3 linked regions of the Homo sapiens genome follow. The protein of the gene in region 2 purifies or fractionates together with the protein of the main gene of each other region. This does not show direct contact. Each region holds a gene or a part of one and is shown on either strand. Other genes may lie near its edges. The genes, in order: GMPPA, PADI4 and MAP1S.

The links.
Region 1: the proteins of PADI4 (region 2) and GMPPA purify together in Homo sapiens (affinity purification with mass spectrometry; one large-scale study listed by BioGRID and IntAct). This does not show direct contact.
Region 3: the proteins of PADI4 (region 2) and MAP1S purify together in Homo sapiens (affinity purification with mass spectrometry; one large-scale study listed by BioGRID and IntAct). This does not show direct contact.

What each region holds. Positions count from the first base shown.
Region 1 is NC_000002.12:219,501,888-219,504,835, reverse strand, and holds part of GMPPA (mannose-1-phosphate guanylyltransferase regulatory subunit alpha), read right to left. Parts: coding exon 2,799-2,948; intron 2,455-2,798; coding exon 2,395-2,454; intron 754-2,394; coding exon 623-753; intron 1-622. UniProt on the Homo sapiens protein: Regulatory subunit of the GMPPA-GMPPB mannose-1-phosphate guanylyltransferase complex; reduces the catalytic activity of GMPPB when part of the complex. Mediates allosteric feedback inhibition of GMPPB catalytic activity upon binding GDP-alpha-D-mannose.
Region 2 is NC_000001.11:17,342,619-17,346,267, reverse strand, and holds part of PADI4 (protein-arginine deiminase type-4), read right to left. Parts: intron 241-3,649; coding exon 129-240; intron 1-128. UniProt on the Homo sapiens protein: Catalyzes the citrullination/deimination of arginine residues of proteins such as histones, thereby playing a key role in histone code and regulation of stem cell maintenance.
Region 3 is NC_000019.10:17,725,845-17,729,493, forward strand, and holds part of MAP1S (microtubule-associated protein 1S), read left to right. Parts: coding exon 1-2,328; intron 2,329-3,649. UniProt on the Homo sapiens protein: Microtubule-associated protein that mediates aggregation of mitochondria resulting in cell death and genomic destruction (MAGD). Plays a role in anchoring the microtubule organizing center to the centrosomes. Binds to DNA. Plays a role in apoptosis.

The sequences.
Region 1 (2,948 bases), on a different chromosome or scaffold from region 2:
GTCACAGAAAGAAAGGGAGAGAGAGATGGTAGAGATGCCAGCTCAGCAGAGACAGAGACAGAGAGGCCAGGAGAGATGGAGAGGGAAGCAGAGACACGGGTGGGAGTGAGAAATGGCTATGAGCAGAGGAGGCCTTAGATGGGGCGGTGGGGGGTTAAGGCAAGGATCCCTAGAAGGGAACAGCTTCTAGCCCCAGGAGGGAAGACCCTGGGACTGGTGAGCAGGGCTCTGGTGCTATGTTCCAAGGGGAGCCTCAGCCTGAGAGTATGCATGTCTGTCTGTGTGTGCACGTGCACACGTCTGCACCCGAGCATGTGTGCGCCCAACTGTGTGTTGCTGTCTGTTCTGAAAGACGTCTCTGGGACACTCAGGGCTTAGGAGAAATGGACCAGAAGGGGAGTGGGCAGGCAGTGACAGAGGAGGAACTGGGATGGATAAGGAAGAGGGACAGAATGAGGTTAGAAGGGGAGGGACTCAGGAGGCTCTGCTGGAGATGGCAAGTGGAGAAGGGAGAGGGGAGGAGGAAGGTGAGCAAGTTGAGATGGAGCCTGCAGAGACTGGTATGTGTTGGGGTCCGTGACTGGGGGTACTTGGGGTCACAGGGCTATGGGGCCTGCCTCACAATTGCCCATCCTGCTGATTACGCTGGAAGACATCCCGAAGAGGCTTCAAGGCTTCAGGAGAAAAGAGGTAGATGCCGCAGTTGATGATGTCACTGATAAATGTGCTGGGTTTCTCCACATAGTGCAATACCTGAGGACAGAGCAGGCTGGGTTCAGTAGAAGAAGGGACTACCGCCACAGTCCCCTAAGACCCTCTGATTTCTAGGCCCTTCTTGCCTCTCCTCCCTGCTGCCAGGGTGGCCTGGCTAAAATGCAGTGCGCATCCGCATCCTACTGCTGCCTGGCTTTAAACCCTGAGATGACTGCCCTTCACCTGATTCAGCTTCAGATAAATCCAAAGTCCATGGCTTTCCCTGCCTGATCCTCCCCACCACCTACCTCTCAGACGCATTTCCACCCGACTGCATGCCTGTGCCTGGAATGGCCTTTCTCATCTCTTCATCTGGAAAGCCCACCTTTCCAAACCCAGTTGACACTGTCACTCTCTCTGTGCGTCCTCTCTTGCTGGCCCGAGTTAGCTGTTCATGCCTGGGCACTCCTGAACTCTGGCCACGCCTCACCCATGGCATTGTATCATTTGCAAAGGTTGCCTTTTGATTCTGTCACTCCTATTAGACTCACAGTAACCAAGAGGCAGGGACTGCACCCATTTGGCTCTGTTTCTCTCACAGCTACCTGGTGCTGAGCACAAAACTATATGTGTGTAGGTGTGTACATGCATGTGTGTGTGCGTGTTTATATGTATGTTTTATATTAAAGCACGAACAAATAAAAGGAGTATGTGACGCCAGGTATGGTGGTGGCTCATGCCTATAATCCTAGCACTTTGGAAGGCTGAAGTAGGTGGATCACTTGAGCTCCGGAGTTCGAGACCAGCCTGGGCAGTATGACGAAAGCCTGTCTCTACTAAAAATACAAAAATTAGCCTGGCACCTGCCTGTAATCCCAGCTACTCAGGAGGCTGAGGCAGGAGAACGGCATGAACCCAGGAGGCAGAGGCTGCAGTGAGCCAAGATCGCACCACTGCACTCCAGCCTGGGCAACAGAGTGAGACTCTGTCTCAAAAAAAAAAAAAAATCAGCTGGGCATGGTGGCTCATGCCTATAGTCCCAGCTACTTGAGGGGCTGAAGTGGGAGGATGGCTTAAACCTGGGAGGTCGAGGATGCAGTGACCCAAGATCATGCCACTGCACTCCAGCCTGGAAGACAAAGTGAGACTCTGTCTCAAAATAAATAAATAAACACATACATACATAAATAAATAAAGGAGGGAGGGTTATGTGAAAGTCAAGGGGCTTAGGAGAAGGGAGTTTCACAAAACAGGACAGAGCCCTGCTGCCCTGCCTATCATGCTCCTGCTTCTGGTATGTTACTTCCTGCCTCCAGGCCTTTATACCTGCCATTCCCTCTGCCTGTAGTACCTTCCTGTCTCCTTTGTCATCTAGACAAATGGGACTCTGCTCAGACCTTGCTTCCTCCAGGAAGCCCTCTCTACTCCCACCCCAGCAAGGCTGGGTTGGGGCCCCCTTGGTGTTCCCATCATGCACTGTGCATACATTTATTACAGCACCACCCCCAGGGAAATTAACCATTCCCCCCCTCCCCCTGGTCAATCTCTCTTAAAGGGATATAAGATGATTAATCGGGAGTGTCTCACCTGTCTGACAAGACTAGAGCCCACCCCATACTGTGCCAGCATTCTCTAGAGGCCTGAGGTAGAGGGGATGATGACACAGAGTAGGCACCCACCCAGCCCCCACTCTGCTCTCACCTCGTGTGTCTGTGGATTCTCAACGATGCAGCCGTAGTTGAGGGATTGCGTCCTGTTAGCCTGAAAGACAGACACACCCGAGACAGTGACCCGCCTGCTCCAGGGCAGCCACGTCTGTTTTTTCTTTCTTTCCCTCCGCTACAGCACCTGGCATGCAGCTCTGCCACTGACAGGCCTTCAGCAAGGGTGGAAACTGACAGCTGCCCTCCCCCTCCCTACTTCTGAACAGCCAGAGGGCTCGGGGTCTCCACTAACACCTCCATGCTGCCAGAGCAGCGCATCTCCCTCCTGACGCCAGCTCCCACACCAACTCCCGGGGCGCCCCTGCCTCCCCAACACCCTGAATTCCGGGAAGCTCTTGGGATCACCTCCTCTACACCCTCCAGCCCTCCTGACCCCCTCACCGTAGTGCCAAGGAGTAAGAAAGGGTGACGCTGGCGTCGGTGGGCTTCCAACATAGCACTCAAGGGGAAGTCGGAGCAGACATCAGCATTGAGCACGAAGAATGCCTCGGGGCTCCCAGCCAGGATCTGGTCTCGAAAATGGTAAAGACC
Region 2 (3,649 bases):
CCTATCTCCCTGTCCATCTAAGGAAGAGTGGCCGGTGAGGCACCAGGCTGAACCCCAGGAGCCCGGGTCCCCCAAGTGTCTCTTGGCCCTCAGGGACAGTCACCCTGCCTGCCCCGCAGGGCACATACCTGCATCCACTGGTCATCCATGTTCTCCTCCTCAGGGCAGATGGTCAGCTTGCACTTGGCTTTCATGGCCAGAGTAGTCACTGACTTCAGGAAGTCCTCATTTTCAAAAATACTAGAGAGAGCAGAAAAGCAGCTCCTTAGTGCTCTGGAATTTGAAGCTCAGCCTGGAAGGATTGGGAGGGACACACAGGTGGCTCAGGGGTCACCTGTGGCCTGAACAGAGGCTCCTGGCACGTCCGGTCCATCTGCTCTTAGCAGGCATTAGCTCATGGAATCCATCTAACAAGTTATGAGGCAGGAACTAGTGGGTACCCCTTCCACCCGTGTATTAGTCCGTTTTCACGCTGCTGATAAAGACATACTTGAGACTGGGAAGAAAAAGAGGTTTAATTGGACTTACAGTTCCACATGGCTGGGGAGGCCATGGTGGGAGGCAAAAGGCACTTCTTACATGGCGGTGGCAAGAGAAAATGAGGAAGAAGAAAAAGGAGAAAAACCTGATAAAACCATCAGATCTCATGAGACTTATTCACTATCATGAGAACAGTATGGGAGAAACTGCCACCATGATTCAAATTATCTCCCACTGGGTCCCTCCCACAACACTTGGGAATTATGGGAGTACATGTCAAGATGAGATTTGGGTGGGGACACAGAACCAAAGCATATCATCCTGCCCCTGGCCCCTCCAAATCCTATATCCTCACATTTCAAAACCAATCATGCCTTCCCAACAGTCCCCCAAAGTCTTAACTCATTTCAGCATTAACCCAAAAGTTCACAATCCAAAATCTCATCTGAGACAGGGCAAGTCCCTTCCTCCTATGAGCCTGTAAAATCAAAAGCAAGCTAGTTACTTCCTAGATACAATGGGGGTACAGGTGTTGGGTAAATACAACCATTCCAAATGGGAGAAATTGGCCAAAACAAGGGGGTTACAGGGCCCATGCAAGTCCAAAATCCAGCAGGGCAGTCAAATTTTAAAGCTCCAAAATGATCTTTGACTCCAGGTCTCACATCCAGGTCATGCTGACACAAGAGGTGGGTTCCCATGGTCTTAGGCAGCTCTGCCCCTGTGGCTTTGCAGGGTATAGCCTCCCTCCTGGTAGGCCAGTTTCACAGGCTGGTGTTGAGTGTCTGTGGCTTTTCCAGGCACACGGTGCAAGCTGTCAGTGGATCTACCCTTCTGGAGTCTGGAGGACAGTGGCCCTCTTCTCACAACTCCACTACGTGGTGTCCCAGTAGGGACTCTGTGTGGGGGCTCCAAACCAACATTTCCCCTCTGCACTGCTGTAGCAGAGGTTTTCCATGAGAACACCACCCCTGCAGCAAACTTCTGCCTGGGCATCTAGGCGTTTCCACACATCTTTGGAAATCAAGGCAGAGGTTCCCAAACCCCAATTCTTGACTTCTGTGCACTTGCAGGCTCAACACCATGTGGAAGCTGCCAAGGCTTGGGGCTTCCACCCTCTGAAGCCACAGCCTGAGCTCTACACTGGCCCCTTTTAGCCATGGCTGGAGCAGCTGGGATGCAGGGCACCAAGTCCCTAGGCTGCACATAGCATGGGGACCCTGGGCCTGGCCTACGAAACCATTTTCTCCTAGGCCTCTGGGCCTGTGACGGGAGGGGCTGCCATGAAGACCTCTGACATGCCCTGGAGACATTTTCCTCATTGCCTTGTGGCTTAACATTAATCTCCTTGTTACTTATGCAAATTTCTGCAGCTGGCTTGAATTTCTCCTCAGAAAATGAGATTTTCTTTTCGATTGCATTGTCAGGCTGCAACTTTTCTGAACTTTTATGCTCTGCTTCCCTTTTAAAACTGGATGCCTTTAACAGCACCCAAGTCACCTCTTGAATGCCTTGCTGCTTAGAAATTTCTTCTGCCAGATACCCTAAATCATCTCTCTCAAGTTCAAAGTTCCACAAATCTCTAGGGCAGGTACAAAATGCCACCAGTCTCTTTGCTAAAACATAACAAGAGTCACCTTTGCTCCGGTTCCCAACAAGTTCCTCATCTCCATCTGAGACCATCTCAGTCTGGATTTCATTGTTCATATCATTATCAGTATTTTTGTCAAAGCCATTCAACAAGTCTCTAGAAAGTTCCAAACTTTCCCACATTTTCCTGTCTTCCTCTGAGCCCTCCAAACCGTTCCAACCTCTGTCTGTTACCCAGTTCCAAAGTTGCTTCCACATTTTGGGTATCTTTTCAGCAACGCCCCCCTCTACTGGTATCAATTTACTGTATTAGTCCATTTTCACGCTGCTGATAAAAACATACCTGAGACTAGGAAGGAAAAGAGGTTTAATTGGACTTACACTCCCACATGGCTGGGGACACCATGGTGGGAGGCAAAAGGCACTTCTTACATGGCGGCGGCAAGAGAAAATGAGCAAGATGCAAAAGTGGAAACCCCTGATAAAACCATCAGATCTCATGAGACTTATTCACTACCATGAGAATGGTATGGGGCAAACCACCTCCATGATTCAAATTATCTCCCACCAGGTCCCTCCCAGAACACGTGGGAATTGTGGGAGTACAATTCAAGATAAGATTTGGGTGGAGACACAGAGCCAAACCATATCAACTTGGGAGAAGACAGAATATGAGTTCACTGTTCAAGGTCACACCACCTGGAACAGTGCTGGGACCGGAATACAGTCCTCACTGGATTCCAGCCTGCGTCCTGACCACATTACCCTCTTACTCTTCTGCCCCTGAAGCTATCAGAAGAGGGGAGGAGAGGGTCTCCTGAGACCCCAGCACACTTGTCAGCGGCTCTCAGACTGCAGGAAGATTGCCTGGGCCTCCCCAAAATGCAGATGGGCCCCGTCCTCAGGGATAAGACCCAGCAGCTCACAGGCAGCCAGAAAGGTGCATTTTATTTAATTTAAATTTAATTTAATTTAATTTAATTTTTAATTTTTATTATTTTTAATTTTCTCAAGACGGAGTCTTGCTCTGTCGCCCAGGCTAGAGTGCAATGGTGCAATCTCGGCTCACTGCAACCTTGGCCTCCTGGGTTCAAGTGATTCTCCTGCCTCAGCCTCCCGAGTAGCTGGGATTACAGGCACATGCCACAACACCTGGCTAATTTTTTGTATTTTTAGTAGAGACGGGGTTTCACCATGTTGGCCAGGCTGGTTATTTTATTTTTGAGATGGAGTCTCACTGTGTTGCCCAGGCTGGAGCGCAGTGGCGCAATCTCAGCTCACTGCAACCTCCGCCTCCAGGGTTCAAGCAATTCTCGTGCCTCGGCCTCCTGAGTAGCTGGATTACAGGCATGCGCCACCACGCCCGGCCAATTTTTGTATTTTTTAGTAGAGACAGGGTTTCACCATGTTGGCTGGGCTGATCTCAAACTTCTGACCTTAAGTGATCCACCTGCCTCAGCCTCCCAAAGTGCTAGGATTACAGGCGTGAGCCACCGTGCCCAGCCCAGAAAGGTGCATTTTAAATGAGTTCCCAGGAGTTTCTGGTGCACAAGGTCCATGGGACACACTCTACAGGCCC
Region 3 (3,649 bases), on a different chromosome or scaffold from region 2:
CCACCACGCCCCCACCTGTGCAGCCGCCCATACTCACCATCACCTGCCCCACCTTCGGTGACTGGGCTCAGCTGGCACCCGCTGTGCCTGGCCTTCAGGGGGCGCTCCGGCTCCAGCTGCGGCTGAACCCCCCGGCGCAGCTGCCCAACTCTGAGGGCCTGTGCGAATTCCTGGAGTACGTGGCTGAGTCTCTGGAGCCACCGTCCCCCTTCGAGCTGCTGGAGCCCCCGACCTCCGGGGGCTTCCTCAGGCTGGGCCGGCCCTGCTGCTACATCTTCCCTGGAGGCCTCGGGGATGCCGCCTTCTTCGCCGTCAATGGCTTCACTGTGCTGGTCAACGGTGGCTCAAACCCCAAGTCCAGTTTCTGGAAGCTGGTGCGGCACCTGGACCGCGTGGATGCCGTGCTGGTGACCCACCCTGGCGCCGACAGCCTCCCCGGCCTCAACAGCCTGCTGCGGCGCAAACTGGCGGAGCGCTCCGAGGTGGCTGCTGGTGGGGGCTCCTGGGACGACAGGCTGCGCAGGCTCATCTCCCCCAACCTGGGGGTCGTGTTCTTCAACGCCTGCGAGGCCGCGTCGCGGCTGGCGCGCGGCGAGGATGAGGCGGAGCTGGCGCTGAGCCTCCTGGCGCAGCTGGGCATCACGCCTCTGCCACTCAGCCGCGGCCCCGTGCCAGCCAAACCCACCGTGCTCTTCGAGAAGATGGGCGTGGGCCGGCTGGACATGTATGTGCTGCACCCGCCCTCCGCCGGCGCCGAGCGCACGCTGGCCTCTGTGTGCGCCCTGCTGGTGTGGCACCCCGCCGGCCCCGGCGAGAAGGTGGTGCGCGTGCTGTTCCCCGGTTGCACCCCGCCCGCCTGCCTCCTGGACGGCCTGGTCCGCCTGCAGCACTTGAGGTTCCTGCGAGAGCCCGTGGTGACGCCCCAGGACCTGGAGGGGCCGGGGCGAGCCGAGAGCAAAGAGAGCGTGGGCTCCCGGGACAGCTCGAAGAGAGAGGGCCTCCTGGCCACCCACCCTAGACCTGGCCAGGAGCGCCCTGGGGTGGCCCGCAAGGAGCCAGCACGGGCTGAGGCCCCACGCAAGACTGAGAAAGAAGCCAAGACCCCCCGGGAGTTGAAGAAAGACCCCAAACCGAGTGTCTCCCGGACCCAGCCGCGGGAGGTGCGCCGGGCAGCCTCTTCTGTGCCCAACCTCAAGAAGACGAATGCCCAGGCGGCACCCAAGCCCCGCAAAGCGCCCAGCACGTCCCACTCTGGCTTCCCGCCGGTGGCAAATGGACCCCGCAGCCCGCCCAGCCTCCGATGTGGAGAAGCCAGCCCCCCCAGTGCAGCCTGCGGCTCTCCGGCCTCCCAGCTGGTGGCCACGCCCAGCCTGGAGCTGGGGCCGATCCCAGCCGGGGAGGAGAAGGCACTGGAGCTGCCTTTGGCCGCCAGCTCAATCCCAAGGCCACGCACACCCTCCCCTGAGTCCCACCGGAGCCCCGCAGAGGGCAGCGAGCGGCTGTCGCTGAGCCCACTGCGGGGCGGGGAGGCCGGGCCAGACGCCTCACCCACAGTGACCACACCCACGGTGACCACGCCCTCACTACCCGCAGAGGTGGGCTCCCCGCACTCGACCGAGGTGGACGAGTCCCTGTCGGTGTCCTTTGAGCAGGTGCTGCCGCCATCCGCCCCCACCAGTGAGGCTGGGCTGAGCCTCCCGCTGCGTGGCCCCCGGGCGCGGCGCTCGGCTTCCCCACACGATGTGGACCTGTGCCTGGTGTCACCCTGTGAATTTGAGCATCGCAAGGCGGTGCCAATGGCACCGGCACCTGCGTCCCCCGGCAGCTCGAATGACAGCAGTGCCCGGTCACAGGAACGGGCAGGTGGGCTGGGGGCCGAGGAGACGCCACCCACATCGGTCAGCGAGTCCCTGCCCACCCTGTCTGACTCGGATCCCGTGCCCCTGGCCCCCGGTGCGGCAGACTCAGACGAAGACACAGAGGGCTTTGGAGTCCCTCGCCACGACCCTTTGCCTGACCCCCTCAAGGTCCCCCCACCACTGCCTGACCCATCCAGCATCTGCATGGTGGACCCCGAGATGCTGCCCCCCAAGACAGCACGGCAAACGGAGAACGTCAGCCGCACCCGGAAGCCCCTGGCCCGCCCCAACTCACGCGCTGCCGCCCCCAAAGCCACTCCAGTGGCTGCTGCCAAAACCAAGGGGCTTGCTGGTGGGGACCGTGCCAGCCGACCACTCAGTGCCCGGAGTGAGCCCAGTGAGAAGGGAGGCCGGGCACCCCTGTCCAGAAAGTCCTCAACCCCCAAGACTGCCACTCGAGGCCCGTCGGGTGAGTACTGGAGCTGGGGCCCTGGGCTGGGTTAGCAGCTGCTTAGGCTGGAGAGCATAGCTCGTCCCCCTGTTTTTACATTTTCAGTTTTTTTAAAAGAGATGGTCTCACTCTGTCTCTGAGCTGGAGTGCAGTGGTGTGGTCACAGCTCATTGCAGCCTTGAACAATGGGGCTCAAGCCACCCTCCCACCTCAGCCTCTCCAGTAGCTGGGACTACTGGCACCGCCACTACCCCTGCCTAATTTTAAAGTTTTTGGTAGAGATAGGGTCTTACTATGTTGCCTGGGCTGATTTCAAACTCCTGGCCTCAAGCTGTGTGCCCACCTCAGCCTCCCAAAGTGTTGGGATGACTGGCGTGAGCCACGGTGCCCTGCCAGTTCTGTTCTTTTTTTTTTTTTTGAGACAGAATTTCGTTCTTGTTGCCCAGGCAAGAATGCAATGGCACGATCTTGGCTGACTGCAACCTCTGACTCCCGGGTTCAAACAATTCTCCTGTCTCAGCCTCCCGAGTAGGTGGGATTACAGGTGCCTGCCACCACGCCTGGCTAATTTTTGTATTTTTAGTAGAGTTGGGGTTTCACCATGTTGGCCAGGCTGGTCTCGAACTCCGGACCTCAGGTGATCTGCCCACCTTGGCCTCCCAAAGTGCTGGGATTACAGGCATGAGCCACTGCACCCAGCCAAGTCCTCCTGTTCGTAATTACTTCGTGACCTCAGCCGTGCCCACCTCTCCGGGGCTCAGTTTCTCCTGTGAAATGGAAACTGACCTCAGTGTTGAAGCACTTGCCATTCTGAGGTGCCTGGACAGGTGAGCACGTATGCCAACTGTGGGTTTCTAGAAGCCACAATAAGTAAAATGAAACAGTTGAAAATTTAAATAGCGTATTTTATGTAACTGATTGGTTAGGAGGACCCGGCCTATGGTTGCACTCATAGCAGAGCAAAATCAGCAAAGAGAAAAGGCACATAGGGTGAAGTCCAAAGGAAACCAGGCAGAAGCTTCCAGAATCCTCTCCCAGTGGGGCTGCACACCACAGGCTTCATTTCTCCAGTAGCAAGTTGTAACAGTGTGTCCCTCATGGAAGCTCATTAGACACAGCATGCCCAGGTTTCCTATTGGGCCATTACATAGGCATCTTCTGCCTGGCACCCACACTCTAGACTCCCCAAAAAGGAGAAATCAGGTGTGTGGTCCAGTCCAGGCACAGGGAGCCCCTCTCAGACAGGGAATGGTGGGAACCCTCTGCCTAAGATCCAAATTCCCAGAGACCAGCCAAAGGCTCACATTTTAAGCAGGCCTTGCTGAGAGGAGGGTCTCTG